Regions from separate parts of the Homo sapiens genome. Here regions 1 and 2 are each linked to region 3. The links come from fine-mapping of genetic effects on gene expression. A gene starts in region 3. Each other region holds a variant in brackets. All regions are shown on one strand. Distances are between the middles of the regions.

What was found. PIP is the estimated chance that this variant, and not a neighbour inherited with it, causes the effect.
Region 1: its variant is the best candidate, but not a certain one, in a credible set for the expression of GNPTAB in nucleus accumbens (GTEx, PIP 0.54).
Region 2: its variant is the best candidate, but not a certain one, in a credible set for the expression of GNPTAB in esophagus mucosa (GTEx, PIP 0.56).

The regions. Positions count from the first base shown.
Region 1 is chr12:101,774,666-101,777,449 of GRCh38, reverse strand. All of the region lies in intron 7 of GNPTAB (N-acetylglucosamine-1-phosphate transferase subunits alpha and beta), which reads left to right. Among named protein-coding and RNA genes, the nearest start is that of SYCP3, 37 kb to the right of the region's middle. The variant C/A (reference allele first, on the strand shown) is at 1,729.
Region 2 is chr12:101,603,202-101,606,055 of GRCh38, reverse strand. The region is part of intron 1 of MYBPC1 (myosin binding protein C1); the gene reads right to left. The region is part of intron 3 of LOC105369938 (a long non-coding RNA gene); the gene reads left to right. Among named protein-coding and RNA genes, the nearest start is that of MYBPC1, 9.7 kb to the right of the region's middle. The variant A/G (reference allele first, on the strand shown) is at 1,631.
Region 3 is chr12:101,829,813-101,832,312 of GRCh38, reverse strand. It overlaps GNPTAB (N-acetylglucosamine-1-phosphate transferase subunits alpha and beta), which reads left to right and starts at 1,354. Exons shown (of 21, transcript NM_024312.5): 1 at 1,354-1,754. The coding sequence starts at 1,638. RefSeq lists silencers at 1,172-1,571, 1,928-2,222.

The DNA.
Region 1 (2,784 bases), 55 kb after region 3:
AAGGCAATGGTTTCTAGCACAGGCAGGGATTTTGGTGAGGATGAGATTGTAAAGACAGGTTGAGGCCAGGTTGAGAAACGTCTCTGTTAAGAATACTAGATTTTTTCCTGTAGGCCGTGGAAGGACACAGTCTGATCTGCTTCTAAGGAACATACTAGGGAAAGGTGTGGTAGGAAAACCAGTTCAGCTGCTGCTGCCATAGCCCAGTAAGACGTTCCCATGCAAAAGTTGCTTGGCAGTGGGATGCCAACGATGGAAATGGTTCCAGAAGCATCTGAGAGAAACACTCAACATCACTTGGTGACTTACAAGCTATTCAGGAGGAGGAAGAGGAGAATGAAAGGGGAGGTGGACCTTTCTGGTGAAGATAGAAGTGATGGAATTAACCACACTCAGAGCTTCAGTGGCAGAAGCAAGTGTCTTTTGGAAGGAGACCCAGAGCTCAGTTTCGGATGTGTTGCATTAGGGGTGTACGTCGCATGTCAGAGGAGAGGGCTGTTAGACATTGGACTTCAAGACTTGAACTGTTGAACCACTTTGCCCTCGCAGGTTCCCCCAGGAGGCCTTTGCCATGGCCTGTGGCCCTGGAGCCACCTAGGGCTCAGCTCAGCTCTGCCCTACAGATTCTCACTAGGCCACGGGTATCTCAGGACAGGTACTGCCCTATTCACCTTTTTACCCTTAGTGATTACTTGGCACTTAGGGGGCTGCTTAAGGAATGAGCCATATGAGGCAATATCTTGGGATATATAGGGAAACATTTTCAGCAGTATGATTATTCACAGGAGTCACTCTAGGCACAGAAATGTGTCTTTGCACATTGTTGTATATACACAACTAGGCCTTTGTCATCCTGTTTAGAACAAAACCTGAAGTTTTTTGTTTTTGTTTTATTAACTGAGGCAGGAGTGTAGGACTTGAAAATAGTTTCATTTGTAAGATAATGGATTTGAATTCATAAAATCTTTTGACTGTAGTCTTATAAATCAGTCTTTTCTGTAAGAGACTTTCTAATTTGAAATACCTTGAGGTGGGTCCTTTAATAATCTGATTAATTACTCTCTAATTTATCTGTATAATTTTTGTGTATGACGGACACAGAATTCAGCTTTTGATAAATCAGATCATCAGTCCTTATTTTCAGATCCCTCTAAATCATTTTGTATCCATAGAACATTTTCATTCATGGTGGGTTTTTGCATTTATTTTTTGATTTTTGCTTTTGTTCACTTCTTTTTTAAACATATTTTAGAGCAAGTGGGAAATCTTCCCAAAGCTGTCAAGTGAATTCTCATGCTAAGTTTCCTTCAATTATAGTAGTTGTTGAGTGAGTGTGCAAAACGTGGAGGAGATGTAGACCCTGCCCTCAAGCATTTATAGTCACATTTTGGAAGCAGCGTGTGTGTATAGAGTTGGCAGTTGGAAACAGGAAAAGTCTGTGTGGGTCAGAGACATGGGGGAAGTTTTCAAAGAGAAAGAGGCTGCACTGGGTTCTTGAAGACTGAACAGGTGGTTTGTGCAGGCAGGATGGGAACAGCATATTGTCCTGCATGGACTCTGCCCCCCTCAAAGCTCTGGTCAGGGCCTAAGGTCACAGTAAATTGTCATAATTTTCTACTAATGCCCTTTCTTTTAGATAATTCTCTGAAACCACTATGTGCACTTGTTCTTTTAAAGCACGGTACCTTTTTCTTTTTTTGTTTTATTTCTAAAATAAAGATGAAACAA[C/A]CAACTCTGAAACTGATTAAGTTTTAGAAAACCACCAGGACGTATTAAGATCTAGTAGCGGCCGGGCATAGTGGCTCACGCCTGTAATCCCAGCACTTTGAGAGGCCGAGGCGGGCAGATCATGAGGTCAGGAGATTGAGACCATCCTGGCCAACATGGTGAAATGAAACTCCATCTCTACTAAAAATACAAAAATTAGCTGGATGTGGTGGCGTGTGCCTGTAATCCCAGCTACTCGGGAGGCTAAGGCACGAGAATCACTTGAACCCAGCAGGCAGAGGTTGCAGCAAGCCGAGATGGTGCTACTGCACTCCAGCCTGGCGACAGAGTGAGACTCCGTCTCAAAAAAAAAAAAAGAAAAAAAAGATCTAATAGCTTTGAATTGTTGAATCACTTAAAGGCACTAATTTGGTTTTCAGTTGGTCTTAGCAGACGTGGGGTTTTTTTCCTAACAGATTTTTAATGATTTTAAATCAAATGAATCCAAAATGAAAGTAGATTACACCTTCTGAATTTGTAAGCACTTTAAAGTTGTTGGGAAAATAACTTCTAATAGGAAAGCCTTGTTATTTTGGATTTGCATGTTCTTCTAGACCAAATTTTCTCCACCTTTGCACCATTCACAGTTTAGACCTGTTGCCGCTATCCTTGGGGGACTGTCCTATGTATTGTAGGATGTTTAGCAGCATCCCAGGTCTCTGTCCTTCGGGAGTATTTGCAGATATGTGATTGTTTAGACAACTTGACGCAGCCTTTCTTTTTGGCATTGAAAAATGACCAGTTTGATATCATGATTTTTAACTAAGGCTTATCTTAAAATACTATTTTGTCTGCCTCAAAAGGATACCTTCTCTTTTGCACTCATTATTTTTGCTTGACTTAAAAACATGCATTCAAACTTACCTGTATTTGTTGGCTACTATTGTTTTTAAAGCCAATTTTTAAATATAGGCTACAATGCTGAGAACAGTAGAACGAACTGTTGAATATTCTCACTTATAATAAGCAATATCTTAAAGTGGCTCTATGTATTTTATATTAATATGCTCTAATCTT
Region 2 (2,854 bases), 230 kb after region 3:
GCCTGACTAATTTTTGTATTTTTAGTAGAGACGAAGTTTCGCCATGTTTCTCAGGCTGGTCTCGAACTCCTGGGCTCAAGTGATCTGCCCGCCTCAGCCTTCCAAAGTGCTTGGATTACAGGCATAAGTCACCACACTTGGCTGTATTCTTGTATTTTAAACGTTATCAATTTTACTTTTATTTATTTATTTTGAGACACAGTTTTGCTCTTGTTGCCCAGGCTGGAGGGCAATGGCATGATCTCGGCTCAGTACAACCTCTGCCTCCCAGGTTCAAGAGATTCTCCTGCCTCAGCCTCCTGAGTAGCTGGAATTACACGGGTCCACCACCACGCTCAGCTAATTTTTTGTATTTTTAGTAGAGACAAGGTTTCACCATGTTGGCCAGGCTGGTCTCAAACTCCTGACCTCAGGTGATCCACCTGCCTCTGCTTCCCTGAGTGCTGAGTTTATAGGCATGAGCCACCATGCCCAACCAATTTTAATTTTTAATTCAGTAAATATATGACACACTAATACAATATTTACTGTATTCCAAATTAAAGTTAGTGTGTATAATACACTAGTTATGCACATAAACAAATGATCTTTAGTTTATTCAATAATTGTTAAGGGTGCAAAGGGATCTGAGACCAAAAGGTTTGAACCACTGGTTTTGAATTTATTGCAAATCTCTTTGGAAAAAGATTTTGTGCATGTTATTTTTAAAACAAACTCAGGTCATATATATCATATACATCTGCAGCTTTGATAAAATGAATGAATCAGTCAAAATAAAAACCTTACATTGATTTTGAAGCAATAACTCATTTTCCTAAGTGCACCATAATAGAGACAAAAGGGCAATAGTGTCTAGTAACACCTACCCTATGCAGAATTCAGCTATCTAGCAACTTACCTAACAGCTTCTGACCACCCAAATAAAAGGGCCTCTGAAGGGCCTCTGCATTTATCTCAAGCTCCTACGTTCCAGGCACTAAGAGTTTCTGTGTTTTCCTCATGGAAGAAGGCCCTAGCTCCTCAGTAAACCCAGGGCCTGGGACTTGGGAAAGGTAAGCAGGGTGCCTGAGGAGCAAAATTTAAGGAGGTCACTTAAGGGGCTGAACCTGCATTTTGGTGACCCAGAAAGTCAGTGCCTTCTTAAATGTTGTGCCTTAGGTGGTGCTAAACTCTACTCAGCCAGATTAATTACCTGGAATGGCGTCTATAATAAAGGACAAAGGGGAGTGAGGGGAACAGTTTCATATGCTGACTGACAAGAGTACTAAAGAAGACAGCACACTTCTAGGAGGGATAAAGTAGGAAAGCTAAGAAAAATTGGAAAGAAATTCAAAATACAAATCAATATGAGTCCATTTTTCAAAAGAGCAAATAATTTGGGCCCTCAGGGTGTCACATGCTACTAATAACTGATATCTATAATTTAAGACAAATTATATCCACTGTACTTTATTTTTTAAAGCAAGGAGTAATATATTACATTTTAAGAATGTTTCTATTCAAACTGGTGGAAAAAATAAGGCTCTGAGGTTATATAACAAAATTAACCTTTAGCTGTGCAGAGAATCCAGCTATTCAGAATGATTCAATCAATTTAATCCATATTTATTTACTATGGTCGAATGTTGCC[A/G]AAGACTGTACTGTACTCTAATGTTCTGAATAGATGAAGTCTAATTGTACCTTGATCATGTAAATATTCAATGACTCATTATTCAACCTTTGGAATTTCCCTGAATCTACAGGGTTTTTTTTCCTCCCCTAGTCAATTCATTCTTTTGTCCTTCTAATTATGCAAGTTTCATCTCAGGATGTCATTTCACACAGGAAGAGGATTAAAATATGGTCCTTATTACATAGCAACAAATAGCTTCTCATTGTTAACATGGGGCTGGGGGAAAATTGCTAAGATCTGAGGACTTGCCTTCCTCACTACTCTTACCATGTTTTAAAGAATCAAATGGGGTGTGTTTTGCAGGGGAAGATTTACTCAGATTGAAGGAGCTTAAAATTTTAGCATAGGTCAAAAAGAAATTATTGCAAAAGCAATTTGAATTGTTAACAGTTTCCTCCTTTACTGTGTCTTTTTTGGGGATCTTGAATCAGTTATTATTGTTATTATTATTTTGAGACAGAGTCTCACTCTGCCACCCAGGCAGGAGTGCAGTGGCATGATCATGGCTCATTGCAGCCTCCTGGGCTCAAGTGAATCTCCTGCTTCAGCCTCCCAAGTAGCTGGGACTACAGGTGTACACCACCACATCCAGATAATTTTTGTATTTTTTCATGCTGTTTCACCATGTTGCTTGGGCTGGTCTCAAACCCCTGGGCTTAAGCAATTCTCTGGCCTTGGCCTCCCAAAATGCTGGGATTACAGGCATGAGCCATTGTACCTGATCTTGTATCACTTATTTATGTGGCTATAGGGTTATAGGATAAATTTCTTAAAGGCCTTGCTCCAAACTGTTGCTGGACCTCACATTGGGTGACTTTTTAAAAATAGAGGAAGAAGAGTCCTGACGCCAGGTGGGGTCATAAAAATAAAATTCCACCGCAATAAACACAGTGACACTCAATCAATCACCCACCACATCCATATGTGGTCATGGAGAGTTCTTTATGTGGTCATCTCAGGAAAGCGCAGACTGAGGAAGACCCTATCCACCAAAAAGCACCCCTGATAAGAGAGAGAAATCTTCTTTTTTTTTTTTTTGAGACGGAGTTTCACTCTTGTTGCCCAGGTTGGAGTGCAATGGCGCGATCTTGGCTCACCACAACCTCCGTTCTCCCAGGTTCAAGTGATTCTCCTGCCTCAGCCTCCTGAGTAGCTGGGATTACAGGCATGCGCCACCATGCC
Region 3 (2,500 bases):
ATCAAAACTATAAACAAAGACAGAATCTCACTCCAAACTTGCATGACTCATTTCACAGTACCTTCCCCTAATCTTGGCCCTGTTCTACAGCCTAAGTACCTGGTTCAAATCTCAATTCTGTCATTTACTATTTGTGTGATGTTAGATAGTTACTTTTTTTCATCACAGTTTCTTGATCTGTAGAATGGGGATAATAATGGTATCTCCATTATAAGATTATTGTGAGGATTAGATGAGCTGGGCACATGGCAGATGCTACATAAATGTTGGCCATTATCCTGAGAGTCCTGTTGAGTGGCAGATGTTTTTATATCTGTTACCATGCTTTTTTACCCCTTCTGATTAAGTCCTCAGATCTGTTATCATGCTTGAAAAGACCTCAGAACTATATGTGTCTTGTACAACTGCAATAATCTTTTGCCATGTACATATAGCATATATCAATCATCTTTTTTAAAAGAAGGATTAAAAGAAGTGACTGCAAAGTGTAAAAAATCTTGCCTTGGATTGGAGTGAAGCTAACCCCTTTTGCAAGTCTGTTAATTCCACCTGACCATCAAACTGAGGGTGCGAATTTGAGTATTTCCTGAAGCTGGTTCCCAAGATATTTTTAAAAATGCTTTGAATGATGGCAACATTAGATAAGTGTATTGTTTCCCAGGGTGACTAGGAAAAAAATCTTATTGACTAGGGTGCATTGGGATTAAGAAAAAGATCTCCCTTTCGTAAATCAGAGGCACCAAGGAAAGGATCTCGTGGGAAAAACCTGCTGTCAAAGTCGGATTACCTGGCCACCCCTGAGCTGGTTCCCCTCCAGTTCATCGCATGATTTCTATCATAACAACTCTTGTATTTAGTGGTTTACATGTTTATCTCCCCCACTAGACTCTCTGAGAACAGTAGCCAGGTCTAGTTCATTTTTGAATACCTGACACCAAGCACTATGCCACCTAACAGGCACAAATTACATATTTAACGACTAAATGAATGAACGAAATTCGGTTTTGGCAGATTTAACCCAAAGGTTTCCTCTTTCAAACAATATAGTTGGGGGTTGGAGGAAAGGAGCCACATACAGCATCTCCTTTTAGCACTCTGCAGAGAATGCTAAGTGCAGAGAAGGTTTTATGCACAAAAATATTCATGGCATTATAGTACCGTCTATGGCACAGTCTCGACGCAGGGGGCAGTTTTCTCTTGGTCGCCTGCCCAACCGGGTAAGTGGATCCCAGCTCAGCTCCGCCCCTCCCAGCCCAGCCCTCAGGGCCCGCTGCGCAAGCGCAGGTGGGGAGGGCGCGCACCTTCCCTATGCCCCTCCGTCCTCCAGGTGGCGCTGGAGACCCCGCCGCCGCCGCAGCCGCCTCTCGCCCGGCCAGACCCGGGCGGCGCCGGCCGCCTCGCCGGCCGCAGGTCCGCCTCCGCCGCGCCGAGGGCGTGGGCTCCCGGCTCCCGGAAGCGGCGGCCGCGGCGCGGAGCCGAGCGGGCGTCCGTCGCCGGAGCTGCAATGAGCGGCGCCCGGAGGCTGTGACCTGCGCGCGGCGGCCCGACCGGGGCCCCTGAATGGCGGCTCGCTGAGGCGGCGGCGGCGGCGGCGGCGGCTCAGGCTCCTCGGGGCGTGGCGTGGCGGTGAAGGGGTGATGCTGTTCAAGCTCCTGCAGAGACAGACCTATACCTGCCTGTCCCACAGGTATGGGCTCTACGTGTGCTTCTTGGGCGTCGTTGTCACCATCGTCTCCGCCTTCCAGTTCGGAGAGGTGAGTAGCGGCGCCGCAGCCTGGACCGGGCGCCTCGACCCTGCACTGCCCTCGCCGTGCCCCGCGATGCCCCGATACAGTATGTATTTTTTCATTATTAGAGACGGGGTTTTGCCATGTTGCCCAGGCTGGTCTCGAACTCCTGAGCTCAGGCGATCGCCCTGTCTCGGCGTCCCCGAGTGCTGGGATTACAGGCGTGAGCCACCGCTCCCGGCCAAATACAGTATTCTTTATCATAAACGTGTGCAGAGACTATGAGCAAGTCAGAACTGGAAAAAGGCATGTATGTGATTTTAGATATTGCTCCCTCGCCCACCGTTTTTTAAAAATAGAGACGGAGGTCTCCCTATGTTGCCCAGGTTGGTCTGGAAGTCCTGGGCTCAAGTGATCCTCCCTTCTTGGCTTTCTAAAGTGCTGGGGTTACAGGCATGAGCTACCGCACCTGGCCCAAGAAAGCCACTTTTAGCAACGGGGAGGAAAGCTGTATTTTTAAGTGGTTTGAAATCTGTTCCTTAGTTTTAGTTTTTTTCTTTTTCTTTTTTTTTTTTTTTTTTGGTAGGAGGTTACAAAAGGTTTTAAAATTTAACAGAGTAGTTTTTAGAAATGCCACAGTATACATTTGCTTGAAGTCTTTACCCATGCTGGATTGTAAGCTCCGTAAGAGAAGGTGCTGTCTGTAAATACTGTAACCCTGGCCCAAGCACAGTGCCAGGTACTGCCAGAGAATGCAGTGCAAGTGTTTGTTT